Linked DNA regions of Homo sapiens: regions 1 and 3 are each linked to region 2. Evidence: fine-mapped expression QTL. A gene starts in region 2. Each other region holds a variant in brackets. All regions are shown on one strand. Distances are from middle to middle. Region 1 holds the start of GPR17 (G protein-coupled receptor 17). Region 2 holds the start of LIMS2 (LIM zinc finger domain containing 2). Region 3 overlaps MYO7B (myosin VIIB).

Region 1 (6,045 bases), 28 kb before region 2:
CTCCTGCTGCATCCAGGCCTCCCTTCCCAGGCCCCCCAGCCCCAGGGGCCCTCTCCACTCCTCACGAGCCTCCACGGCTGCCCGACGCCCAGTGTTGGCCCCTCTGACAGGCTGGTCAGGGAGGATACGGAAGAGATCCAATCGCAGACCCAAGATCCCCACCCAGGTTATGGTGGGCAGACCCCAGATGCCAGGGCCACCCATTCAGCATCCCTCCCTGGACCCCAGGACCTGCTACTGCTGGGTGTCTGGACTCCATCCTGCACAGCACTGTGCTCCATCTGCCCTGGGGTGTCTCATCATCAGCTGTGTGCAGGGCAAGGGGCCCAAACAAAGGCCCAGCAGTCACTGGCTAAGCTGCCGACTGGCTCTCTGTGCCTCCCCAAGACCCTATGTGCCCAGCAGGGGGCAACAGCTCAGGGTCAGCTGACCGAATGCCTCGGTGAATGAATGACTCTACAAGAGAGGAAGGGAGCCTCGGTGGGCATCATCTCCCCTCGACTACTGGCCAGAGCCCTGGCTCTTACACCCCAGCGACGGGAAGCAGTTGTGGCCTGTGGCTTCAGTCTTCATCACCACAATCCCTGAAGCCCACCCTTGCCCAGACACCTGTGCCCCAGCCCCAACCCCAGGCCACCTCCTCAGCAGGTCTGGGGCTGAGCTGCCCCACCTGGCGCCTATGGCGGCCAGCCCATGCCCCCTGCGGTGCCTCTGTCCCAGACTCAGCATGTAGGCCCCATGACCCCACTCCACATTCTGGTGACTCCTCCTGAGCGTCAGGACAACACTCAACCCACGAGGAATTATTTCTGTCTCAAAGATGCAGGAATCAGCTCAACGCCTCAAAACTCCATCACCACGGTCAATGCCCTTGAAGCCATCGACAGTGATCACCCCAATAACAGAAGGTCTGTGAGCCCAGAAATGCCCTGCTCAGGGTGGTTAGCTTCAAGCCACCACCTTTCCAACCAGCCTGGGCCAGTTCTTCCAGACAGCCGCCTGCGGGCACAACAGGAAAGAGACCTGCGCCCCGGCTCAGACACCTCACACCCAGCTGGCTCTCAGGCCAGACAAACTGGGAAGCCCATCTCTCTTGAAGGAAGTCCAGATGGGAAACAGCTTCTCAACAGACCAGATCACAGCATCAGATCTAAAGGTGGCCTTCAGAATTCTTTTTCAGGTTGAATTAGGATCAAATCTAAGAATTCTAAATTCAAAATGCAGCAGAAAAACAAAACACACACACACACGGAGCCTAAGTTCTGGAGTGACATGTGCTTGGGTTCAAATCCTGGCTCTGTTGCTTCCTACTGTTTGTTGATGGGTGAGTTTCTTCATTTGCCTGAGCCTCAGTTTCCTTGTCTGTAAAATGGGGCAATAATCCCAGCTGCACAGGGTGATGTGAAGAGACAAATTTAAGACACTGCCCCTTAAATGCTAGCCACATACATACAGTTTTCAATGTTTAAACAACAAAATGTAAAGTCTTTTGAAACCAGGAAGGGTGATTTGGTTTCCCATGTTGCTGGATGTATCATTTTCAGAAAGACAGAGAGAAATGAACTTTGTTCACTCAGTCTCAGAGGCGGCCGCCGGCAGCATTCAAAGGCACCCCAGCCCGGAGCCACCCCAGGGAGGAGCCCCAGGCCAGCGGTCAGATTCATGGGCTTCCGTGCAGAAGGGGAGCTGCACCGGCGAGCACCCGGCCTCTGAGCTGAGCCGCATCCTCACGGACAGGACAGCGCCCCATTATGAGGCTCCTGCAGCTGTTCCTCGCTCCAGATAAAGGCCATGATTTATTCTGTGTGCCCAAATGGGGCCTCATTATACAGGGCAGGACACAAGGACCCTACAGCAAGTGTCCTCAAAGAGTCGCCTCTCACTCCGTGAGCAAGACTCCTCGGCCTCCCACCCTCCGTTCACAGGCCCCCTCCGCCGTCTGCGGGCGCAGGCCTGGGAGCGCCGCCTGTTGCCATGACAGCCGGCCCCTCCCTGCCCCCCATCAGTAGGAAATCATCCCCTTCTGAAACGTCCTGTTGTGTCCCTCAGCTCCAGCCCAAGCCCCCCACCCAGCCCCCGCCTGCTCTGAGTCTCTGAGACAGTCACACACTCAGACTATGTGGCCAAGCTGGGGGCGGGGGGCATGGGCTAGGGACACACTAGAATATTCACGCTCCGGTGGCAGCAGCAGCAGCAGCCAGAGGAGCAGCCCGACACAACAAGGGACCCCTCAGGAATGAAGCAGCCTTTCAGGGCCAGAGGGGCTGTGGTCTCCCTTCCTCTCCTTAAATAGCCAGCGTTCCACCCACAGCGGCAAGGAGCCCCCTGCCACCACCGACACCCACGGGCGGAGATCACCTGCTGCCCCGCAGACCCCTGTCCCTTCCTCCCGGACCAGCAGCTAGAGGTAAGGGGCAGGCTGGGTGGGGTGGACTGGGAGCCCAGGGCTAAGCAGAGGAAACACTCAGCGGGGAGCCCTGCCCAGGGAGACAGGCAGCAGCCTGTCTCGTCCCATCTCTTTGGTGATGGTCTGACCTGTGCATCGAAGGCTGACCACAGTCTGAATTCACAGCAGCCCACAAAGCGGTGTTTCGTCCCTCTGATGGGGGCTTGCAGAGGGGAAGTGGCTTGCCGGCAGTCCAGGCTGCAATGACAGCACCGCTGCCCCTAACCATTAGGCAGCCTTGACCCATAGAGGAGCCAGATGCCTGGGAGAGGGCTCGGGCCAGGGATGGAGTGGCGCTAATGCAAAGGAAACTGCCACCACCTGGCCATGGCGCTGCCACCACAGGCCCTCCCCGAGGCCACACATGCCCACCTGCCACCTCCACAGAGGCCTATGACCTGTCCTAGATGCTCGACTCACCCACAGCCACGGGACCCAACACTGCCCAGGCCCCGGCCCATGCCACGCCCTTTCCTCTTACGGACACCGGCTCGGTGGCCGTCTGACCAGTGAGTCGTGAGGAACCAGCGAGTCTAGACTGAAGTTTGTGTTTCTAAAGGGCAACAGAGAGTGAAGCGGGGCCCATCTCAGACCAAACTGCAACAATCAGTATCAGAACTCCTCAAACGGGGGACAGAAAGGGAGAAGAAACCTCAGCAAACCTGAAACCAACCAGAAAGCTGTTTAAAATGGAGTCTCAGTCCCAGAGAGAGCGAGGGGCACGCCCTTCGGCCCGGGCAGGAAGTGGAGGGCAGTGCCCAGGCTGAGGCCCCCGGGCTGGAGGCAGGAGGCACCACAGGCCCACCTGGTGCCATGAGATATGCCACCCCTGCCGTCACTCAGGGCCCTGAGCCCAGTAACACTCTGCCGTCACTGTCCTGAAACTCTTCCTTTTTGAGCAAGGGGCTGCACATTCTCATTTCATACATGGGCCCCTAAAATGAGGGAGTGGCCCCAGGGCCAGGAGGGGGTGCTGAGCCTGGGAGACAACTCCATGGCAAACTCTGAGACTGAGTCACACTCCCCACCCTGGCGGTCTTCCAGGGAGTGAGACCGTTTCCCCGGTCTCACTTCCAGCTCCAGGGCCAATGTCCCCTGGTCAAGTGACCTAAGACAAGTTAGCAGACACTCAGCCTTGACTCCCTAACCTGCAACATGGGGCTAAAACTGGTTTGAGCCAGCACAGGCAGGCCCCCACCATGCCAGGCAGAGTGGTCAGTCGTACCTATGAGCTGCTCTCTCGTGGGGCCAGGTGATGCCTGCACTGTGGGGCACAGCACAGGCCTGAGGGACAGCCTGGGGTGGAGGGCACCCACCTTGGCCCCTTCCCACCCCCAGGTTCTAACAAGGGCCCCTCACTCACTGGGCCCCCTCTCCTCTTCCAGTCTCCAGGGCCTCCCCGCACACACCTTCCTCCTCTCCTGCCAACCTGAAAACAGCACACCTGTGTGCCCCTCCCATCTACCATGGGCTGTCCTCTCTGCTTGCCCATGCGTCTGCCCTGGAGCCCTGTTCCTCCAGTCTCCGGGTCCTCACCCCCAGCACATGCAACACGACACCCTCAAAGTCATGGGCCCCCCTCCCCTGCCACCGTCCCACCGGTACCTGCTCCCTGTTCTCCCCTGCCTCACAGGCCCTGTCAAGGGCTGTGTTCCTCCCTCCTTTTACCTCTCCTCCACAGCCCCCTTCACAGCCCTCAGCCCTTCCCCAGGGCTTCAGCCAAGCCTGTCTCCCTCTCCCAAGCATCACTCACCCCGCCTTCTTCGGCCCTCAGCTCTCCGCCCTCACCGTGGTTTTAGCAGTCCTAGGGAAAGTGCCAGCCGAGACCAGCCAGACCAAGTCAGAGTACTGTGGAACCTGGA[T/C]TCCTGGGGAATGGGGTCCCCATGAGGAACTCCACATTGGACTAAGAACAGACCCTGTTCCTGGAAGCAGCAGGAAACCATCTCTGGTGTTAGAACTTCAGGCATCTTGAAACACTCTGAAGCCGGGGGCAATCTTTTCAGGTAGGGGAACCTGCCTAGAGAAATAGCTAAAAGGTAATATTATTAGGTAGTTGCCCTCCCCTTTGCTTGAGGACATTGATGGCCAGGTGCTCGGGCCAGCCCTCACCCTCCATGTGAGGGCCACAGCAGCTGGCCACTCGCTCTCCTGAAGGAAGGGTGCGGCCCACCCTTCCCTAGGGCTAGGGCCACCACCATGCCTGCTTCTCCTCCATATGAGGATGGCTCCAGCCTCCTCCTCGAGGGGCTGCTGTGTCCATGAACAGTCACCATGCCCTCTCTGCCCCGTGCCACCAGCATCCTGAGACAGCCCTGTGGAATCAGTAAGAGGAGAGGGGCTGGGCGCAGTGACTCATGCCTGTAATCCCAGCACTTTGGGAGGCCAAGGAGCACTTTGGGAGGCCAAGGAGAGAGGATCACTTGAGCCCAGGAGTTTGAGACCAGCCTGGGCAACATGGCAAAACCGTCTCTACCAAAAAATACAAAAATTAGCCGGGTGTGGTGGTGTGCGCCTGTAGTCCCAGCTATTCAGGAGGTTGAGGTGGGAGGATCACTTGAGCCCTGGAGGTTGAGGCTGCAGTGAGCTGATTGCACCACTGCACTCCAGCCTGGGTGACAGAGGGAGACCTTGAAAAAGAGAAAGAAAAAAAGAAAAAAGAGAGGGAGGGGAGGGGAGGGGAGGGGGGGAGGGGAGGGAGGGGAGGGGAGGGAGGGGAGGGGAGGAAGGGGAGGGAGGGAGGAAAGAAAGAAAAAGAAAGAAAGAGAAAAGAAGAAAGGAAGGAAGGAAGGAAAAAGAAAAGAAAAAAAGAAAAAAGAAAAGAAAAAAGGAAAATAAAGAAAAGCAAGCAAACAAGCAAAGCGAAGTGAGAGAGAGAGGAAGGTAGGAAGGAAGGAAGGAAGGAAGGAAGGAAGGAAGGAAGGAAGGAAGGGCAGGGAGAAATGTGCAGAGTGAATTTGCTGCAGGCAGGACCCCGGCTGTTCGGTGCAGAGCCAGGCTCGCCCAGGATGAGGACCCTGCCAGGGCTGTGGCCCGTGCCTCCTCCCCTCCTGCTGCCACAATGGGCACAGGCAGGATGCCAGCTTCTCTTATGCAAACCTCTCTCCAGCCTCTGCTTCAGCCTGGCTGTGCAGGGTGGGGATGGTGGATACTGGGAAGCCAGGTGCCCAGAGGAGCCCCAGAAGCTGTGCCATCATCAGCACCCACCTGGCCGAAGCCCGCTGGTGACCCCAATTCAAAGGCAGGCCAGGTGCGCTGTCCTGCCCTGGTTCCGGGCTGCGGGCTGCTCTGGCCCCACCGCCTGCCCACACTGCCACTCGCAGGCCTGGGTTGGGGAGGCAGAGTGTTTGGGACCCTCACTCTCCTTCTTCAATCTTCTGAGTTGACTAAAATCAAAACAAGAGTGGGTTTCTCTGCTGAGGGTGGGGAGCACCCTATCCAGACCCAGGGTTCACCAGACGGACATGACTTGTTACCCAGGACTGTCACAGGGCTCTGCACTTGGCCTTCAAACGTGGGCAAGCCACGAGGCCTCCAGGCCTCTCTGGGGCTGCAGATCCGTCCTCAACAGCGCTGGCCAGTGTCTCTGACGCTGGGTAAAA
Region 2 (10,497 bases):
CCAGGCATGGTGGCACACGCCTGTAGTCCCAGCTACTGGAGGGGCTGAGGCAGAAGAATCGCTTGAACCCAGGAGGCGGAGGTTGCAGTGAGCTGAGATTGCACTACTGCACTCCAGCCTGGGCGACACAGTGAGACTCCATCTTAAAAAAAAAAAATTTGCAAATCATATGTCTGAGAAGTGTCTAGTATTCAAATAAATAAGGAACTCTTACAATTCAACAATAAAAAGACAACCCGATTTAAAAAATGGGCAAAGAGTTTGAATGGACATTTTTCCAAAGAGGATTTACAAGTGGCCAACAGATACATGAAAAGATGCTCAACATTATCAGTCATTAGGGAAATGGAAATCAAAACCACAATATGACACCACTTCACACCTACTAAACCGGACAACAATAACAAGCATCAGCAAGGATGTCGGGAAATTGGAACCTTCATACATTCCTGGTGTAAAATTTAATAAATGTAAAATTGTTCAATTACTTGGAAAACAGCTTGATAATTCCTCAAAAAGTTTAACATAGAGTTACCATATGCCAGCAATTCCAGTCCTAGGTATATATTCAAGGAGAAAATGTATGTTCACACCAAAACTTGTATGGGAATGTTCATAGCAGTATTATTCACGGTAGCCAAAAAGTGGAAACAATGCAAATGTCTACCACGGATGAAGGAAGAAACAAACTATGGCACAATGGAATATTATTCACCCAGAAAAAGGAATGAAGTACTGATTCATGCTACAATATACGGATGAATCTTGGAAATATGTTGTTAATAAATGAAAGAAGCCAGGCACAAAAGGCTATATAATATATGGCTCCATTTATGTGAAATGTCCAGAACAGACAAATCTGTAGAGACAGAAGGCAGGTTACTGGTGGCCAGGGCTGGGAGGAGGGGGAAATGAGGACTGTCTGCAAATGAGTACAAGGTTTCTTTTAGGAATGATTAAAATGTTCTGGAATTAATGGTGATGGTTGCACAGCCTTGTGAATGCACGAAAAACCACTGAATTTTACAATCTAAAGTGGTGAATTTAATAATATGTGAACTATGTCTCAGATTTTAAAAAACACGTGAGTAATGAAGAATGCAACTACATGGCTTCTTAGAGGCTGGAACTGAGGCCCCAAGCTATGAGGCAGGGCTGCCTCCCCAAGGCCCTGGGGCACGTGCCCTCAGCCCAGTGGGCAGAGGCAGAGACGGACAGAGGCAGAGATGCCACAAACAGGCTGTCCTCCAGAGCCAGCTCCCCCACCAGACTCCTCGCTGGGAGGCTGAAGACAACTCCATGAGTTTCCCGTGTATTCCTCCAAGGACGTGGGTGAGGACACAGTAGGTTTTATGTTCATATGTGTATTCAGTCACCTCATCTCAGCAAGACATATGCATTCACTCATGGAGGTATCTCACTAGGGTGGTCATCCTGCTAAGTCATCTAAGTAAATATTCACCTTCAGAAATGTACACGCTACACCTCAACAGAACAAGCAAGACAGTGACAGTGCCTCCCTTGGCCCCTTTCCCACCTGGAAGTGAAGACCTAAGGGATGGTTAAGCCTGCATGCAGGCTGGGCACGGTTGTTCACGCCTGTAATCACAGCACTTTGGGAGGCCAAGGTGGGTGGATCAAGAGGTCAGAAGATCAAGACCACCATGGCCAACACGGTAAAACCCCATCTCCAATAAAAATACAAAAAAAATTAGCCGGTTGTGGTGGTATGCACCTGTAGTCCCAGCTACTTGGGAGGCTGAGGCAAGAGAATTGCTTGAACCTGGGAGGCAGAGGTTGCAGTGAGCTGAGATCACGCCACTGCACTCCAGCTTGGGTGACAGAGCGAGACTCCATCTCAAAAAAAAAAAAAAGAGCCTGCATGCGGCACAGCACAGATAGGGACAGACAGAAGAAGGATAACCCGCTGTGGATAGAAAGCCCGGGCTCCTCTCCCCAGTGGCTCCCTGGGCTGTCCCTTGCCAGTTCACAAGTGCTGACTGTTAACTATTCAGGAATTCCGTAAAGCGTTAATGCCATGTTGGTGGCTTGAAATGAGCCCAGGTGGGGGTATCACACCACGGGACTGGACACCCTGCAGATCAGTCCCTCCATCCCTATTATGCCACTGGCCGGCTAGAAGGGGCCAGTCAGCACCAGAAGTAGAAGAAAAAGGAAGGAGGTGAGGGGCCATGGCAGTGCCACCTGGCCCAGTCTGGGGCTCAGGGCTCAGTGGTGCCACATCACAAGCCACATCACTTGTTACCCACTTTACAGTTTGCTTAAGCCCCTGACGCCACTGCAGCCTCGTGTGCTGTGCTGAGGGCTCTAGCTGCAGTCAGCTGCCCCTTGGCCGACACCTTCTGCCTAGGGGACCACCGGGCACACTCCTCACCCGGAGGAGGGGCAAGATTGGTGGATATGAGGGCAGGGATCTAGCAGCCTGCTCTGCGCTGTACTAAGCATGGGCTCAGCACACAATCAGGCATACGACAGCCTCACATGTGACACACATGACGGTCACACCATGGGTGGGACTCCACTTTATGCAGCCAAGCCACTGAGCTCACGTGGCCGTGGGTGTCAACATCCCAGGCTCCATTTCCAGGAATGCCAGGGACAGCTGGGTCCCTAGGTAGGTGGCCTTAATATCCTCCCTGTAGAACAATGGTGATGCCAGAGGTCCCTTCAGCTGTGATAGTCAAAGATCTTGTGGTTGTAAGTTGCAAAGTCCCTGAGTTGCTGCTGAGGCCGAGCCCCCTCTCTTCCCACGGCGTGCCACCCCATGCTCTGGGCTGCCTTCACTCCCTGCCCAGCTGGCTACTCCTGGGCTTCAGCCCCTCCATGCCCAGGTGCCTCCCACGGCTCCCCCTCAGACTTGCCACAGCTCTTCAAGCACTCCACAACCACACCAAGCATGCCATCCACCCCCACCTGTCATCACAGGAGGGGCATCCTCCCGAGCCCCACCCTCTGTGGCCCACCTCACAGCCAGTCAGTTGGGTCCTGTCCACTCCACCTCCCAGAACCCTGAGTCAGCCTCCTCTCCTCCACCCGCTCAGCCACCCAGGAGAGGCCTCCCTAGTGGCTGCCTTCTGTCTCCTTCCCCATCTCCTTCCCAGCAGCCCTTTCTCCACACAGCACCCATGGGTTCATCTGCAGACAGCATGGCCACACATGCCACTCCAGGTCACTTTGGTGGCTCCCCACAGCCCTCCCTCTGCTCTTGCCTGGTGAGGTCCTAGGGAGAGCTGGCAGGGAGAAGCCCTGAAGGTATGCGAGCAGAGAGGGTGTTTCCCAAAAGCAGCCTGGCTCTGGGCAGCATGGGGGATCCCGAGAGAACCAGGATCCAGGCACGAGGAGCTGCCCGGGATCACATGGGAACAGTGGACGTGGGGAAGGGCACCCAGCATGAAACGGTGGAAATGAAACTCCACTGCTTCTGGGACAGGAAAACTCTCGCCCACTCCGAAGGCCGGGTTGGATGTCTGTTCCTCACAGACTGGCCCGGCCCAATCCCTGTGTATGGAAGGCAGGGAAGCCAGTGGGGCACCAGCACTGCGGGCAGCAGGGTCACCTTTGAAGGAGCGGGTGCATTACACTCAGATCGCTCACAGCTGCGTCAAACAAACTCCAGGAGAAAGGACTGCGGGGAGCCACCGAACTGCATAAAGGGAGGCTCTTGGGAGTGGAACTGTGGCAGTTTCCTTCTCTTTATGTTTCTGTTATCTTTTATGTTTCCAGGTTTCTCCTTATTCTCTAAGACGAGTAGTATTGCCTGGACGAGGAACGCCCTACACAGTGCCTGCCAAAGGCTGACTGTCATCCCTGTGTCATTTGAGGGTAAGAGTTTCTCAGGCCCTTGGAGCCCACAGCAGCAAGGGAAGGCTGACCCCTGCTCGCCACCACCTGCCTTCCCAGCGGTTCCGGCCGGGCTCACCTGACGGCCTCCGTCTCCAGGGAAAGGCCCAAGGGACTCAGGGGCAAGAGGACCCTTGCCAGGGAGCAGTGGCACCTCGGGGCCTCCCATTCCAGCCCCGCACCCTTCACGGCTCTGTTCTCCTCGACATCCCTCCTGTGCCTGAAGGAACCGCCTCTCACCCACCTCCACCTCAATGCTGCTGCTGGGGCTGCTCCGGACCCTGTTCCTGTCTCTCCCCACTTTCTTTTCCTAGAAAACAGGAGAGTGAGAACCAGCCAGCTGGCAGGGATGCTCTGAGGAAAATGGGAGGCAGCCCCGCTAGAACCCTAGGGGGTGACCACAGGCAGCCAGTGGGCCTGCAGATGCCACTCTCCGGGGGATGAGTCCCTCCATCTCACTGCAGAGGGGCCTGGGCCAAGGCTTAGAGGTGACTCCAAGTCAGGGGAGCTAACTGGGAAGAGAGGCTTGGGGAGAAGAAAGGGAAGTGTGTCTGGAGGGCAGGACTTACAAAGTGACAAGTTACAGGCTATTTTTGGTTCCTGGGCTGCCCTGAGACCCCAGGCCACAGCCTTAATGGCGATCACAGAGGCAGCTCCCCTGTGGGCCTCGGATTTGAGACTGCAATCCTGGACACTGCCCTGTACCCTCCAAGCCCCTTTCCCCAGCAAAGCCACAGGTCACTCTCCGGGCTGGGGCTCCCCAAGAGCCCCAGGTCATGGGATCCTGAAGAACAGCATCCCCCTGCCAGGACTTGGCTGGGGGAGACCAGGGCCTCAGGGACAGCCCCCTCCCACCCAGTCCTGAGTCATGCACTTGTACCCAGCTAGGTTCCAGAAAGGGCTGCAGGGACAAACACTGGCCGGACACTGGTGGACCTGTGACTGGCCTCCTGAGTGGCTCAGCCTCTGTGGCCTCTGGTGACCTCATCTGTGAAATGGCAACGAGGGGCCTGAGAGCAGAGGGTGGGCCAGGCCCAGGGGAGCGCCCTGTCCCCAACCAACCCCTGCACAGCTGGTGCTTGGGCGCAGCTCTGGCCAAGTTCCAACATACCCTTCAACATTTTTAACATTTTTACCACCCCAGGTTTACAGAGGAGGAAACGGAAGGCTCCAGAGATGACACTCACCGGGATCGGGGATCGCACAGCGCGGGCTCGGGGAAGTTGGGGGAGGCACGCAACCTTTGAACCTTTTGCCCGTGGTTGGTGTCTGACCTTGGACAAGACCCCCTCCCGCAGCCCTGGGCGTCGGTTGTGAGCAGACGGCTGTCCCATCTTGCAGCGGGCGGGTGGGCAGGAGCTCCACCTTCCGCTGCAGGCGCTCGCCCAGAGGAAGAGGCGCGGGGGCTGGGGGACCCCTGCCCCGACGGGCGCTGCCGCCCCGGCAGCTGCGAGAATCCGACGCGCCAGGGCGGAGCGGGGATCGTGGCGCCGCGGGGCTGTACGAGGGCGAGCTGCGCCTCGGCCAGGGGTCCCGCAGTCCCGCCTCCCCGGCCCGGGGGCGTGGGTGGGGGCCGTTACCTTCCCGTCATGGTGGCAGCGACGCCGAGCCCTGGGTTGCCGGGGTTGCCGCGGGTCTCCCTCTGCTGCTGCAGCCGCCAGCCGAGCGCCCGCCCGCCAGCCCGGGCCGCGGAGCAGGGAGACGCCCAAAAAAGGCCAAGAGCCGCTCCGCCCGCGAGAGGGGTGGGCGGGGGTGGCAGGGTGGGGCCCGCGGGGCGGGGTGGGATGGGGAGGTCAAGGCTGAGGGTGGTGGGGGTGTTGGGGAGGTGACGGTGGGAGGTTGCGGGAGTATAGGTGGGGGTGGGGGTGGCAGGTGGGGGTGGCGGCGGGTAGGGTTGGAGGGGTGGGGGTTAAAGGTGGGGCTGACGGTGGGGTTGGAGGGGTGAGAGTGAGGCGGGGGTGGGAGTGGGGGTAAAAGTAGGGGTAAAGGTAGAGGGTGGGCCCCGCTCCCGCACAGCCCCAGCTCCAGGGACACGGAGCGCGGCCAGCGGCGGGCGCGGGTCAAGTCCTTCCCAACCCGGGCTCTGCTCGCCACCTCCTGGATTCCGGGCATAGCTTTCCTTTTAAAGGGAGTAAAGTTATAATAAACGCGAACAAGCACCCCCACCCCCACAGCCCCGCCGGGACGCCCCGCCCGGCGCCCCCTCTGCAGTCCCTGGGCCGCCCCAACCGCAAACGCGTGCAGGAGATGGTAGGCGTGGGGGCGATGCTGAGACCACCTCCCTCCCGGGCTTTCCTAGCCCGGAGTTCCCACCGCGGATCTGGGCACTGACTCCCTCCCGAGGCACCCGGGACCGCCGAGTCCACGCAGTCCCGCCCCCAGGGAGGCTAAAGCCGAGAGGCGTCCCTCTTCAGTCGCAAAGCTGCTTTCCCCGGGAAATTCCGATTTCATCCCCCGTTGCGGGCCATCGCCCTAACTTGGCGAAAGATATTTCTTAAACGACAAAACCAAATGCCCAGCTCCCAGGTTTCCAGGGGAACCAGGCACGCCTCTGTATAATGAAGCGCTGAGAAGCTACCATTAGAGGCGTTAAGATGGAGGGGTAATATAAACTATTTAGGGAATCTCTTCGGAGGAAATTTTCAAACAAACAAAACAAAAAACCCCCGCCCTGCCTAAAGGCAGATATTTCCAGCTGGACAGTGGCGTGCAGCTCATCTTTGGAAGCAGCCCAGATGTCACACTGAGGTTTGGGAGCTGGGCGGCCTGATGTGTAAATGTGGTGCTACTCCGGTCTTGGCAGCAGAGAAAGATGATCTAGAAATGACGGTGTGAATTAGCAACCCACAAATAAACTGGTGCCGTTCAGAAAGATGAGTTGATAGTATCCTGCAGTTCCACCTGCAGAAATAAGCTGGGAAAAGACACCTGTTCCTAAGTGGCTGGTATTGTGGAGTGCCTTTGCAGTTGTTACTTTTTTTTTTTTTTTTTTTTTGAGACGGAGTTTCGCTCTTATTGCCCAGGCTGGAGTGCAATGGTGCAATCTCCGCTCACTGCAACCTCCGCCTCCCAGGTTCAAGCGATTCTCCTGCCTCAGCCTCCCAAGTAGCTGGGATTACAAGCATATGCCACCACACCCAGCTAATTTTGTATTTTTGATAGAGATGGGTTTCACCATGTTGGTCAGGCTGGTTGCAAACTCCTGGCCTCAGGTGATCCGACTGTCTCGAGTTATTACTTCTTGTTGCGAGCGTGTCTCAGCTGATTCGGCTTAACTGTAATTTGATGGTTGATTAAGCTTAAGTATGGATAATTTCTTGGCTCACCTGCTCATACAGGGAGAAAGGCTTTCCACCATTACTGACACAGAGGTGTAGGCATGCTGGGGCCGTGCACCAGAAATCCACTGCTGGACGGTTAATTGAATATCAGGGTCTTGTGGGAACCAAAGAGGATGAAAAGTTGAAAGCATTACACCAGAGGCCCATGCTCTCCACAGAGGAGACCACATTCCTGCCTTTTAGCCCAAAAGCCTCCCTGCATATGATAGCTGAGCACACACGGATCTGTATGTGGCCAAACCAGGACCCTATGCAGCTCCCAGTGTGCCTCATCCCTGGGCCAGGGCAAGCTCAGTAACAGCTGGTAGGGGTTGTGGGCATGGCTTAGCCCTGCTGGAGATGCAGAGGCTTCAAGGAGCCAGGGCCAGCCTCCCACAGTTCAGCCAAGAGGGCAGAGTTGCAGGAAAGAGCTGGCAATCACACATTCACACACTTATCCACTTGTTCCTTCAAGAGTATTTATACCGCATGGGCACTGGAAGTACTAGGGGGAGAAAGAAGCCATGGACCAGGCTCTCATGGAGTTTAGCAGGAGGTGGAGGATGGGCAATAAACAAATAAATAAATACGCAAACTAGATTTTAGACAAGGGTAAGTGCTGCAAAGAAAAGGACAATGGTGGTGGCTGCTTTAGAGTGAAGGGTGAGGGAAAGTTTCTGAGCAGGTGACATTCAAGCTAAACCAGAATAAGGGAAAGAGCCAGCCCTCAGCCATCTGCAGGAAAAGCATTCCGGCAGAACAGCAAGTGCAACAGCCCTGAGGTGACATGAGCTTGGGGTACGCAAGGTCAGAAAGAAGACCAGTGGGTCTGGAAAAAGGGGAGGTGGCAGGTGGAGGGGCACGGGAAATAAAGGAGAGGGCCCAGGGCAGAGCAGCAGGGCCACAGCAGAAGTAGGATTCCACCCTTAGATGGAGAGTTCTAAGCAAAGACAGACACAACACTCTAGCATCAGCAGGGGTGAATCTCAGAAATACTGACTGAATGAAAAAAGAGCACCTTTTCCATCTATATCAAGTTCTAGAATAGGCAACATTTGTCTGTGGTAGAAAAAATCAGAACGGTGGCTGCCTCAGGCTGGTCTATTACACCCCGGACTGCCCTGAGGTGGCAGGACAGGGGTTGACTAGGAAGGAATGTGAGGGAGTTTCTGGGGTAACAGGCAATGTTTTAGTAGGAGTTTGGGTCACACAAGTGTATATGCCTTTGTTAAAACTCATGGAATATATGGCCAGGATTTGCACATTTCATTATATGTACATTTTACCTCAAAAGAAAAATACCGTAAACGATACTGAACTCCAGTTAATGACATACAATGCTGAAGTGTTTAGGTAGAAAGGTACTGATGTCTGCAACTTACTTTGAAATACATTGTTTAAATCAAGATGAGCCGATGTGGTGGATCCCCGTAGTCCCAGCTAGTCCTTAGCTACGGGGAGGCTGAGGAGGGAGGATCACTTGAGGCCAGGAATTCAAGACCAGCTTGGGCAACATAGCATGACTCTGCCTCTAAAAAATGAACTCAAGATGGGGAGATGGGTAAAGGGAAGGACAGAGAGGTGGTAACGTGAGTCTACGACGATATTAATGGGAGAATCTAGGTGGTGGGTATCTGGGTTTTCAACTTTGATGAGTGCTTGAACTTTTTCATAGCAAAAGGGGGAAGTGTCCCTAGCTGCTGTGTGGCCACTGTGTGAGGGACAGAGTGGTCTCAGGGACAGTCTGATTAGAGGCTATGGTGAGCGTCCAGGAGGGACTGGTGCCTTGGGCCGTGCGACAGTAGGGACATTGAGAAGGCATCAAACACAGGATCTATTTTGCAACCAACAGGATTTGCTGGGAATCTGGATGTGTGTGTGTGGCCGGCGTGGGCGTGGTCAGCACAGGTGTGGTGGTTGTGGGGCAGGTGTGTGTGTGGCAGGTGTGAATGTACAGCCGTGGGAGTCAAGAGGACTTGCAGGTGGCCTTGCTTTCCTAGATATTGGTGGCAGTGGGACAGTCTGGGCAGGTTAGCGAGGGGTGACGTTGCATTGGGCCCTCCCCAGGCATCCCAGGGGAGATGGTGGGCGGGGCACTGTGAACCTGGAGCAGGGAAGAGAGGTCCATTCTCCAGCGTAGATGCAGAAGGCTTGGTACAAATGGAATTTCAACTCTAGGGCTCCATGGAGACCCTGGGGTGTCTGTACCAGTCAGGAGCCCTCCAAGGGTAAGAGGTGGGACTGGCAGAAAGTGAGGGGGAGAGCAGGAGAGTGTGAGGTGCCACAGAAGCCCGGAGGGAAAGAGCTCCAGGGAGGAGGTGCGCCACTGCCCCGTGTGCACACTGCTGCGTGCAGAGGCCAGGGAAGCATCTGGGTTTGGGTCAAGAGCCGGTCCCTTGGAGTGAGGGGCCTGAGTCCAGCTGCAGAGGGGCAGGCAGGGCCCCTGCAATGCCTCCCCCAGGAGCACCCCTCCCTGGGGTCTGTGTAGATGGTGCTCCCCAGAGTGCTGCACACAGTGCCCCTGGGGGGAGAATGCTCTGAAAGGGGGGGCAGAGAAGAGACGGCAGTTGGAAGTGGGGAGGGGAAGGGGAGGGAAGGTGAGAATGCAGTGTCCATTCCCAGGTCTTATGGGATGGCATCACTGAGGGACATTCAGAGAGTGGCTTGAATCACACACTTAGTCTTCGCTGGGGGACAGTGGGGCTCTGAGGCTGAGGCTGGGCCACAGAGTGACATGACAGCTGTCCTAGAAGGTGAAGGAGGTGCAGCATCTCCCTGGGCACGAGCCTTCTGCCCTCTGGGGTTCAGGGCAGGTGGGCACCCCCTTTGCTGGGCAGGTACCCGAGTTTCTCCACCCCCCACCTTCTCCCTTCCCTACTCCAGGGGACAGCTACCTGAGACAGCCCAGGGCCCAACGCTCGTGGGAGCTGGGACCCAGGGCCAAGAGAGGGGCTGGGCTTGGTCAGCGTGGCTAATCAGCAGTAGGAGGCTGAGGAGAACCCGGGGTCTCAAAGTGCCTCAATGAGCCTCCGCCAATATCCAGAGCCACAGCCCTGTCCCCATGTGACCACAGGGAATGGAGAAGGCCTTGCAGCTCTCAGGAGGCCTCAGGGTCTCCTGCCACAGCCCAGGTCCTGGGGCAGGAGCTAGCATGCCTTCCCAACAGGTAGGCTGTTCATCCTGCCTGTTCCAAGAATGGCCCCGTGTGATGTGAGGCCACCCAGACGGCCACTCTACAAGGCCTGTGCCCCAAATCTGGTTAAGGCCTGTCCCTTTCAGGGCACTGGGAACTGGCAAAACACAGAGACCTGCCGAA
Region 3 (10,497 bases), 39 kb before region 2:
ACAGAGCCACGTCCTGAGGAGCCACCCAAGGAAAAGCTGCACACCCTGGAGGAGTTCTCCTATGAGTTCTTCAGGTGCCCCCCAGCCCCGCTCCGCCTCATTGCACCCCCACCTCCCAGCCCCACCTCACCTCATTGCACCCCCTGCTCCCAGCCCCGCTCCACCTCATTGCACCCACTGAGAGCTGCAGAGAGGCCACGCCACCCATGTGGAGCCTGCCTGGCCTTCCCAGGCCAGGGGAGTCAGGAGGGGCTTGCGGCAGGGTGGGGTGCTCTGGCCCTCCCACAGCCACTCAGGGGTGTCAGAGGACAGAGAAGCGTGGGACAGAGAAGGCCACAGGGCAGGCCTCACACCAGCCTCTAACCTCACAGGGCTCCAGAGAAGGACATGGTGAGCATGGCCGTGCTGCCCCTGGCCCGTGCCCGTGGCCACCTGTGGGCCTATTCCTGCGAGCCGCTGCGACAGCCGCTGCTCAAGCGAGTCCACGCCAACGTCGACCTCTGGGACATCGCCTGCCAGATCTTTGTCGATATCCTTCCCCACCAGCCTGCCTGCACCTCGTCAATGCCAGGGCAGAGGCACCCAGCACATCCTGGCCCTACAGCTGTGCTCTAGGGCAGGAGAGCCCAGGAGATCTGAGAAACCTGGAGTGGCGGGACAGAGCCCACACATGGCTCACCGCAGGGCCGGGGTCGGGGTCAGCGTCTATCCCCAGTCTGTGTCAGCGTGGGGCTGCCCCAGCACTGTGCTCCTTGACAGCCACACCCATCCTCCGGTACATGGGCGACTACCCTTCTCGGCAGGCCTGGCCCACCCTGGAGCTCACCGACCAGATCTTCACACTGGCCCTGCAGCACCCGGCCCTCCAGGACGAGGTCTACTGCCAGATCCTGAAGCAGCTGACGCACAACTCCAACAGGTCTGCTGGGGCGGCGGCCAGCCCACGCGGGCACCCTCAGTCCTCATCCCGGCCCCTGAGGCCAGACCGAGGCTCAGAGAGGACACCGCAGCTGGTGGCGGCAGAACCCCTGCCTGGGCTCCTGCCTCAGCAGTGGGAAGGGTTGGGCCCTTGGTCTGCTCTGCTGATGTCCTAGGGGTGGTCAGAGCAGGAGAGGATGGCCCTGCCCACTCCCACCCTCTGTGTGTGACCTGGCAGGCCATGACCTCTCTGAGCTTCAGTGTCGTCTTCCACAAAATGGGTGCAATGCCCACCCGCCCCCATCTTGAGGGTGTGAAAGCCCGTGGCATCGGGCAGCCTGGCACAGCTGGCATGGTGCAGCCTGGCAGGTGCCCTCCCCCTCGGGCCCTCTAGACCCCAGGCAGCTCTCACATCCGTCCCTGCTCCCCAAGGTGCCTGCCTGGCCAGGGCCCCCTGAGGGGCCTTTCCCGGCTGACAAGTGCTACCCTTCAGGCACAGCGAAGAGCGGGGCTGGCAGCTGCTGTGGCTGTGCACGGGCCTCTTCCCGCCCAGCAAGGGGCTGCTGCCCCATGCCCAGAAGTTTATAGACACTCGGAGGGGGAAGCTGCTGGCCCCCGACTGCAGCCGCCGAATCCAGAAGGTCCTGAGGTGAGCCCAGTGCCTCCAGCCCCCAGCATTGGCCCTGGGCCCGCAGACCTGGGATGCTGTGGGGCCTGGCCAGCCTTCCAGGAGCTCATGGTCCTGGGAGGACTCTCCAGAAGCCAGTGTCAGCTTGGCAGGCAGGATTGGGCCCCGAGCTGCCAGAGAAGAGGGTGGAGGGTGAGGCCCAGGAGGGTCAAGAGAAGGCTCAGTCATAGCCACCAGCTCCCCTGCCCCACCACTGCCCAGCAGTGGCACAGAGGCACTGCCTGAGGGATAGAGAGAAACCTGGATGCCCCAGCCCAGGCCCTCAAGGCTGAGGTCAGAGGCCCATCCTTCCAAGTCCATGCGGCCTCCCTCATCCGCCCACAGCCGTGAAGCTCTTCCTTGGCCGTCTTTGCTCTCCCCCACCCCTCCTGCCTCCTCTGGCTTGGCCTCCTGTGGCCGTGAGGAGGGCAGGTTGACTGTAGGAGTGGCCATAATTTCAGTGGCAGCCGTGGTCACAGAGAGAGGTGGGCGCCCCATAGAGGCCCTGCCAGAGTCCCTGGCCCCTGCCCGATGCCCCTGTTGTGCGAGAATAAGAATACTGCCAGCCTTTCCTGCCGGCGCCTTCCCGGGAGCCCCTGGCCTGGCCCTTCCCCGTGTGTGCCCCAGGCTTTCAGGCACAGCTGCACCATCACTACCTCTGAGGCCGCGTGGAGCCAGGGGCAGCCCCCAGGACATGCGAGGGGCTGGAACCACCCCAGTGATGGTCACTGGGGTTTTCTTTTGTTTCTGGCACATGGTTTAGGGCCCACATCGGGGCTGGGGCATGGGTGAGGATGAGGGTGGGGGTGGCACCTGCAGCACACGCTGTCCCCCTCAGGACGGGGCCCCGGAAGCAGCCCCCGCACCAGGTGGAGGTGGAGGCCGCAGAGCAGAACGTCTCCCGCATCTGCCACAAGATCTACTTCCCCAATGACACCAGTGAGGTGAGGCCCTGCTCTGGTCTGCACGGCAAGTCTCAGGCCTCCAGAGGCCATGGGGCATCCTCCTTCCTGGCCCAGCCTGCTCCTTGGTAACCCCAGAGAGCCTTTTCTAGGGCTGTCCCATCCTAACCAGTCTCCCGCCCTCTCCCCATGGGATGCAGGCCCCACCTGCCCTTGGGTGCTTTGGAAGTCAGGCCAGTCCCAAGGTATGAGTTGGGGGATCCAGGCCCAGGACACAGGAGAGGACAGAGGGGTGGGCAGCAAGGGTGAGTCCCAGGACTTGGGGGCCCCTAGGGGCTTCTGACCATCTGGGGTGCAGGAGAGCAGGTATTCCCACTGTGTGTGCCTTGTGCACAGAGCCTGCCATGGCTGCTGGGGGAACAAAGGGGCCAGGGGGCAGGTAGGAGACCACCAGGACCCCACCGTGACACAGAGGCCTTGATCAGGGGCAGCAAAGACAAGCGGGCTGAGAGGCCAAAGTGGGCAGTGTCGCCTCGCGCCCTCTCCAACAGCACAATGGTCTTTTTGGCCTTGATATTCGGGTCCCGGTAACAGGAAGTTCCCACAGTCTGGCTGCTGGGCTCTCAAGGCGAGTCAAAAGGCCAGGCCTGCAGGGCCCCAGGACAGCGAATGCTGGGACTAAACAACATGAACCTCTGGCCAGGGTTCTGGAAGGGAGGCTTGCCCTGCTCAGGGCAGACCACATCCAACCCAAGTTTCATGAAGGAGCAAAAGTGCCAGGCTAGGAAGGCTCATCCTGGGCTGTACTGGCCCCTAGCCAGGCCCCGGGCCTCACCAGCTGCCTCTCTGTCCAGATGCTGGAGGTGGTTGCCAACACACGGGTGCGGGATGTGTGTGACAGCATTGCCACCAGGCTGCAGCTGGCCTCCTGGGAGGGCTGCAGCCTCTTCATCAAGATTTCAGACAAGGTGGGCCGGGCTGGGGCTGGGCAGACGGTGGGCGGACGGGCAGTGAGCGAGGCCCTAGGTGCTGCCTGTGGGGGCCTCAGCCTACCAGGGGCACCCATGCTGGACCAGGCTGCACGGCCAGGGCTGCTGGGACAGAGGTAGGTGGGGTCCTGGAGCAGAGCCAGCTCCACACGCCAATAGCCCACGCACAGCCGACTCCAGCGCAGCACCCAGGCCGTAGGCGGCCACTGGACCAGAACCCAGCAGGTTCTCAGGAGGACAGTCCCCGGAAGCCACCCAACTTCCCTGTACCTTCCCCTTCCCCAGGTCATCAGCCAGAAGGAGGGAGACTTCTTCTTTGATTCCTTGAGGGAGGTGTCTGACTGGGTGAAGAAGAACAAGCCCCAGAAAGAAGGTGAGGAGGCCTCTGTGGAGCTGGGGGAGGGCGTGGCTGGGTGGGTCGAGGGGGCACTGGCGGCCTCTGTGCGGCCCATGCCCATTCATCCATCCATTCGTTCCCGTGTGTCCCTGGGTTGTGGGAACAACCAGGCCCTGGGGCCCGGCGGTGAGGGCCAGCTCAGGCAGAAACAGGTGGCTGCACCTTGGAGTGATGAAGGATGCCCCAGGGCTGAGGGGCATGACCCTCATGGGCTGGGAGTGCGAGTCCAGGAATGTTCCTGGAGAAGGCAGCCTCTACACTAATATTGAAGGAAAATGTGGGGACTGGGGAGGAAGAAGCGTGGGGGCTTTCGAGGCAGGGAGGTGGCAGGCGCAGTGTGGGGGGTGGCAGGGGGTCAGGGCTGGTGTACCTGCTGGGACAGGCTTGGTGCCCACTGCTGGCCCTCGCCCAGGGGCCCCCGTGACGCTCCCCTACCAGGTGTACTTCATGCGGAAATTGTGGCTCAACATATCTCCAGGGAAGGATGTGAATGCAGACACCATACTCCATTACCACCAGGTACCGGGCAGGCTGCCCTGGTGGGCACTGGGGCCACCCCCATCTTCCCACACCTGTTCTGAGGCTGTAGAAGCCAGCAGGCCAGGGCAGGGCCAGCCTCAGCCCTGGGTACCAGCCCATGTGGTAGGCAGACCAAGCCCCTGAGGGCTCTGGAACCAGGAGCAGAGGGCAGCAATGTTTGGGGACAGTGACTGCACTGGCACCTGCAGCATGACTTGGAGAGGGTGGGACAGAGGGTCCTGTGACCCATGGAGCAGTGGCCGTGGCCTGCAGGGCCAACCACATGGGTGGAGCAGGCCATCACCTCCACGCAGATGTCAGGGGGCCCTGCCCTGACTCAGGGTCATTCCCCTGGCCTGAAACTCTCTACCCTGCTCAGTCCGTCCTGGATGGAGTGGGCTAAGCCCCAGTTCCCCACCATCTGAGCGGGAAAGAGGTTGGGGGCGGGTGGGCCGCAGCTGGAGACCCAGCATGCCCAGTGTGTCCATCACCCAGGAGCTGCCCAAGTACCTGCGCGGATTCCACAAGTGTTCGCGGGAGGATGCCATCCACCTGGCGGGCCTCATCTACAAGGCCCAGTTCAACAACGACCGGTCCCAGCTGGCTAGTGTCCCCAAGATCCTGAGGGAACTGGTGCCTGAGAACCTCACACGCCTGATGTCCTCGGAGGAGTGGAAAAAGGTCCCTGGTCGGGCTGGGGAAGGGTTCTTGTGCTGCTGCTCCTCCCTGGGCCCCTGCACCAGTGCCATGCCCTGCCTGGGCTCCAAGATCACATGGGTGCACATGGGTGGTGTGGAGGGTGGGCTGGCTCTGCACACACCACGCCTTCCTATGCCATCCACAGCACCGAGACTGTCCCATGCTGCATTCCTCCCCTCCCCTCCCCACCGTACTAGCCCTGGGGTAGGCAGGTGCTGCCCCCACCAGGGCTTTGGAGGGCCTCTGGGCACCCAAGTCCTTACTGGCCCTCCTGTCCCCCAGAGCATCCTTCTAGCCTATGACAAGCATAAGGACAAGACAGTGGAGGAGGCCAAGGTGGCCTTCCTGAAGTGGATCTGCCGGTGGCCCACCTTCGGATCCGCCTTCTTCGAGGTGAAGGTAAACCTTGCCCCACGCCAGGGCCTCCTACCCAAGCAGGCTCCGCTCAGCCCAGCCCCAGCAGGCCCAGCGTCAACCAGCACACATCTTGGGTGGGGCTGGCCGTGAGGCTGGAGGGCGTGGGTGTATGTGTGTATGTGCGTGTGGCCTAGATGAGCTCCTGGGAGGTGCAGCCTGGCCTCCCGGGCTGGACTATGACCGCCGTGTCCCTCCCTCCCAGCAAACCTCGGAGCCTTCCTACCCGGACGTCATCCTCATCGCCATCAACCGACATGGGGTTCTGCTCATCCACCCCAAGACCAAGGTAGCTGCTGGGCCTCCGGAGGGGCTGGGGGCCACCAGGTCCAGGGACCTGTGCAGGTGGGGCTGCAGTCATCTCTGCGGTGTGTCCTGCCTCTCTCCTGTCCCCTAACACACACAGAGCCCGTGCTCTGGAGGCGTCCGGCCCACCCACCCTCTCTGCCCCCAGGACCTGCTCACCACCTATCCCTTCACCAAGATCTCCAGCTGGAGCAGCGGCAGCACCTACTTCCACATGGCGCTGGGGAGCCTGGGCCGTGGCAGCCGCCTGCTGTGCGAGACCTCCCTGGTGAGCTCAGGTTCTTTCTCCCATCCAAGATGCATAGGACAGAGCTGCTGGAGACTGGGTTCCCCACCCTCACCCCTTTCAAGTGGCTCACTAAGAGGGCTCAGTCACAGGGCCCAGGCGGGGCCAGCAGATCTGGAGAGGGCCTGGGTGCATCCCCAGGACCAGCAGCCAAGGTGGCAAGGCCAGGCGGGACCCCCTGCGCCCTTGGCCCATTCCAAGGAGGGAGGGAGACCCAGCTCCAGCAGGGCAAGCAGAAATGACGGCCCCAATGGCAGGAGCCCGCCTTCCCTTTCTCCATGCCCTGCACTGCTGGTTGCTGAGGAAGAGAAGGTGGTCCCTGAGTCCAGGACCCCCACCTGCCCTCTGCACCCACAGCCTCTGACCCCCCCGTCCCCTGTCCAGGGCTATAAGATGGATGACCTGCTGACCTCATATGTGCAGCAGCTCCTGAGTGCCATGAACAAGCAGCGGGGCTCCAAGGCCCCAGCCCTGGCCAGCACCTAGCAGCGGATGCTGGCGTGTCTGCTCAGGCGCCCTTCCCGACCTCTAGCCTGGCGGCACCTTCCCAGGCCCTCTCAACCCAGGGCCTGTCCTTGGCGGGCAGCCTTCCATGCTGCCCCCCATACAAAGCCCACTCAGCCCCGCAGGCGGCCCCCTCTGTCCTGGGCGCTGCCCAGGGAGGCCAAAAGACGGGCCCAGAATGGGGTCGGGAGTCTCGGACCCCCAGGCTATTGGTGGATGACTGACTGACAGGACACCTCCCAACCCCACCCCACCCCACCAGAATGTTCAATAAAAACTCCTGGAGCAGGAGAAGTGTGTCTGTCTGAGGGAGCAGGGTGTGGCACAAGGTGGACAGGGGGCCTGGGAGGCTCTGGCC[C/G]GCAGAGAGCTGCAGAAAAACCAAAATGCCGTGTGACTGACTCCCCCAGGGAACCCGGAGGGCAGCTGCATTCTCCAGAAATGACTTCATCCCTCCCTTTCTGCTTCCTTCCTCCCCCTCCCTTCCTTCCTTCCTGTTTCTCAGACTGGGGAGGGGCACTCATGGGAGAGTTCTCCTCCCAGGCCCCTCCTCACACCTTCTGTCCTTCTCCCCACCCGGGGCATTGATACGCCTGCGCTACCCCCAGGAGGCCAGGGTGGAGGTGCGGCTCTCTGGCTGCTGGCTTCATGCTATGGCCAGCTTATGCCCAGACAGACAGTGGGCAGAGCTGGACATAGCACCTTGGAGGCCTGGATTCCCCCACCTCGCTGGCATGCCCTGTCCCTGCCCACCTCCTCCTCTGCCCACTGGGCCAGCTTATGTGGACCTGGCCACCCAGGCTTGTGAGGACCTGGCAGGGCTAGTCTTCAACTGCTTATGGCAGCCTGGCCTGGGATAGAGGCTAGGGCCCCCTGAACTCGTGCCTGTCTATGTCTGTCCCTCTGTTCAACTGCCCCAGCAGCAGCGTGTCCAGAGCTGCTGCCATCCCCTCCACCCCCGACCCCCGCCACAAACCACGCAGGCTGCTGTGGTTGTGTGAACAAGCCTTCATTGTGCAAGCGTGAGCCCAACAAACAAACACCAGGTCTGCGCTGGCCGAAGACGAAGCGTCCTCCCTGGAGGTGGGAACAAGTCACCTCTGACCACACCTCCTCTGACGCCATCACCTCCTCCTGGCCCCACCCAAGGGCTCGACACAAGCCCCAAGGTCGGGGGGAGAGGGGCGGGGCGGAACCGAGGGCGGAGGCCAAGGTGGGATTCCAGGAAGGCCTTCCGAAGGATGGAGGTGGGTCCTGTCCCTCCAGGTAGCTTGTGGGTGTGGACAGCAGGACTTGCTGGCTCAGTGTGGGCACAAGGACACTGTGCCACTGGTTGAGTGAGTGGTGAGGGATTGGAGGTGGCTCCCAGAGGCCTCCATCTGCATGGCCCTGGCCCTGTGGCTCCAGCAGGCTGCCCTGGCTGTGGGTAGCCCAGGAGCCACATGCGCTTAGTGGGGCCGCTCTGGGGCAGGGGCTCTCACAGGACAGCATGAGCCACTGAGCCGCCTGGGGAGGGCCAGGCCAGGCGGGGAGCTGTGGTGCAATTTGCTCCTGTCCCTGGAGGTCTGTGGGCGGAAGCTGTGGGCACAGGTGGACATGGCTGTCAGACGTGGGGTCATAGGCTCCCACTCCCCAGCTCCTGCCTCCTCACAGACAGAAGCCACGGCCAAGGAGAGGAGAGACATGGGGAAGGCAGAGATGAGGGAACAGGAAGGGAGAAGGCAATGAGGAAAGAGAAAGGGAGGGTAAGATGCGGAGGGCACAGGTGGATGGGGACGAGGGGGCCAAGCATGGACAGCAGGAGGGGAGAAGGCGGAGGGGCCGAGAGGCAGCTGCGCAAGAGGGCCTTCAGGCAGAGTTGAGGTCTGTGGCCTTGGGCTGGGCCTTGCGGGAGGTCAGCTCCGACAGCTTCTTCAGCCGCTTCTTCAGCTCCAGCGGGAACTTCTCGTAGCACCTCTTACACACGGGCTTCATGTCGAACTCCACAAACTTGTTCCTGAGGAGGAAGCTGAGCTGTCAGCAGAGCCCCACGCCCACCCCTTTAACCCCAGACAGGTGACTGTGGAGTGGGCTTCCCTCAGCCCCCAGCCTCCCCACACCAGCCTCTCCTAGCCAGCAGGCCAGGCCCTAGGGTGAGATGGCCAGAGAGCATAGGGATGAGAAGGGCCTTGAGGCTTCCCTTGCCTCCCAGAGGCTTCTCTCAGGTTCTGAAACCCCAGAACCCTCTATGCCTCCCCACAGCCCTTGGAAACCTGGACGCCATCTCTCCTCTCCCAGCTCCAGCCATCCCACACCCCTCGAGGCTTCCTGGATGAGCAGCTGACACTGCTGCTTTTGCATATGCTGTTCCCTGAGCTGGAATGCCCTTCCCTCCCCAGAGCCCAGGGTTCTGGCAGGTGTGTTGGAGGCATGAGTGTTCCTCCTCCTCTCACTGTGCCTGGGGTCCCTGGGGTCCCTGGATCCCCTAGACCCCCTGAACCTGCCCCCATCTCCCTGGGTGGTATAAGGCCGGGCTGCCCCTTGTCCCCACCATATCCCCAGGCCAGACTCAGCTGGTGTGCAGGAGGGCTGCTGAGAGGAAGGACCTGCAGGAGCCCCCTCCACCCTGAGCCCCATCCCACGATCACAGGGACTCACTTCAGGGTGAGCTTGCTGTTGCAGGTGGAGCAGGAGAAGCAGCTCACACACCAGGCCTTGTTGAGGGCCGACACCACTGTGAGGGAAGCGTGGGACTCAGCAGGCCTGGCTAGGCTGCCGCAGGCCCGGCTGGGCTCACAGCTGCAGCACCCAGGCCCCAGGAGAGCAGGTGGGGTGGGGGAGGGAACACAGGGCCTCACCATCGCCTTCAATCACATGGCTGCAGTTGTAGCAGACGTCCCCGAAGAGCTGTGGGCCGAGCAGGCTGTCAGAGTAGCTGCAGGCAGTCACACCCCAGCCCAGGGCCATCATGCAGCCAGCCTGGCCCTCCAACACGGCCCCTCTCAGGCATCTCCCAGGCCCTGCCTCCCAGGGCCCAGCTGCAAGGCTGGGTTGAGGGCACGGCAACCCATGAGAACCACCCTTCCGGGAAGGACAACAGGCTGGGGCGTTGCTCCCCAGAAGGCCCCTCTGCTCTGGCCACTGCTGTCCTGCAAGGAGGTGGGCCCAGGTGGTGACTGCATCCCACCAGCGCCCCCTGCCTTCTGTACCAGAGCAAGGGAGGGAGGGGGTTGCTGGCACTGTCAGCCCCATGTGCCCGGGACCTCACACCAGCCCCAGAACATTCTTCAAAGGAAGACACTGAGACTGAAGAGAGCTGCCCAGGTCTCGAGACCCCAGGCCAGGAGCCAGGGCTGAGGGTGCAGGCCTGGGCTCAGCACCTGGCAGAGCTCCTGAGGGGGTGCCCACAGCCTCCCTTGCTCACGGCAGCTCTCCTGGCCACCCCTCCAGACCCGCATCCCTGAAGGTTCTGCACCGGGCTCACCTGGTTGTAGTGAGTCTCGCAGTAGGCCAGGCCCTTCTTCTCATAGTGCCGGTGCCCCAGGAATGGCTTCTCACACTTGGCACAGACAAAGTGCTGCAAGGACAAAGGGCGGGCCGGGTGGCATCAGGGCTAGAGCGGTGACCCCGAGGGACAGTGGTGACCCGGGGACAACAGTGACCCCAGGAGCCAGTGACTCCAGGGGACCACAGTGGCCCCAGGAGGCAGCAGTGACAGAAGGGGACAGAAAGCAGAGTCTGGGCAGGTGCAGGCCTTTCAGGATTCACACTGGGCAGAGGGGACTGACACCTCTGTGAATGCCCTGGGGTCAGCAGACCCTACCCCTCCTCTAAGGCACTGATGGTAACCTTGTGAGTCACCATCCCCTCCCAGTCTGGCCTCCCCCTCGGCAGCCTCAGCCCCAGGAGTCAGGTGCCAG

The links.
Region 1: its variant is fine-mapped to the expression of LIMS2 in esophagus mucosa (GTEx, PIP 0.97).
Region 3: its variant is fine-mapped to the expression of LIMS2 in whole blood (TOPMed, PIP above 0.99).

Annotation. Positions count from the first base shown.
Region 1 is chr2:127,643,838-127,649,882 of GRCh38, forward strand. The region is part of intron 4 of LIMS2 (LIM zinc finger domain containing 2); the gene reads right to left. GPR17 (G protein-coupled receptor 17) reads left to right here and starts at 2,316. Exons shown (of 2, transcript NM_001161417.2): 1 at 2,316-2,407. RefSeq lists enhancers at 5,123-5,850, 5,877-6,045. The variant T/C (reference allele first, on the strand shown) is at 4,309.
Region 2 is chr2:127,669,573-127,680,069 of GRCh38, forward strand. LIMS2 (LIM zinc finger domain containing 2) reads right to left here and starts at 5,958. Exons shown (of 10, transcript NM_001161403.3): 1 at 5,442-5,958. The coding sequence starts at 5,452.
Region 3 is chr2:127,630,835-127,641,331 of GRCh38, forward strand. It overlaps MYO7B (myosin VIIB), which reads left to right. Exons shown (of 48, transcript NM_001393586.1): 36 at 1-74; 37 at 372-529; 38 at 766-919; 39 at 1,412-1,567; 40 at 2,424-2,529; 41 at 3,342-3,455; 42 at 3,762-3,849; 43 at 4,286-4,392; 44 at 4,888-5,073; 45 at 5,374-5,490; 46 at 5,711-5,794; 47 at 5,960-6,079; 48 at 6,482-6,892. The coding sequence ends at 6,583. LIMS2 (LIM zinc finger domain containing 2) reads right to left here. Exons shown (of 10, transcript NM_001161403.3): 7 at 10,062-10,154; 8 at 9,436-9,484; 9 at 9,236-9,311; 10 at 7,592-8,594. The coding sequence ends at 8,447. Among named protein-coding and RNA genes, the nearest start is that of MYO7B-AS1, 5.3 kb to the left of the region's middle. RefSeq lists silencers at 1,983-2,072, 2,173-2,222 and enhancers at 2,493-2,722, 5,019-5,965, 5,966-6,912, 6,913-7,859, 7,860-8,805. The variant C/G (reference allele first, on the strand shown) is at 6,960.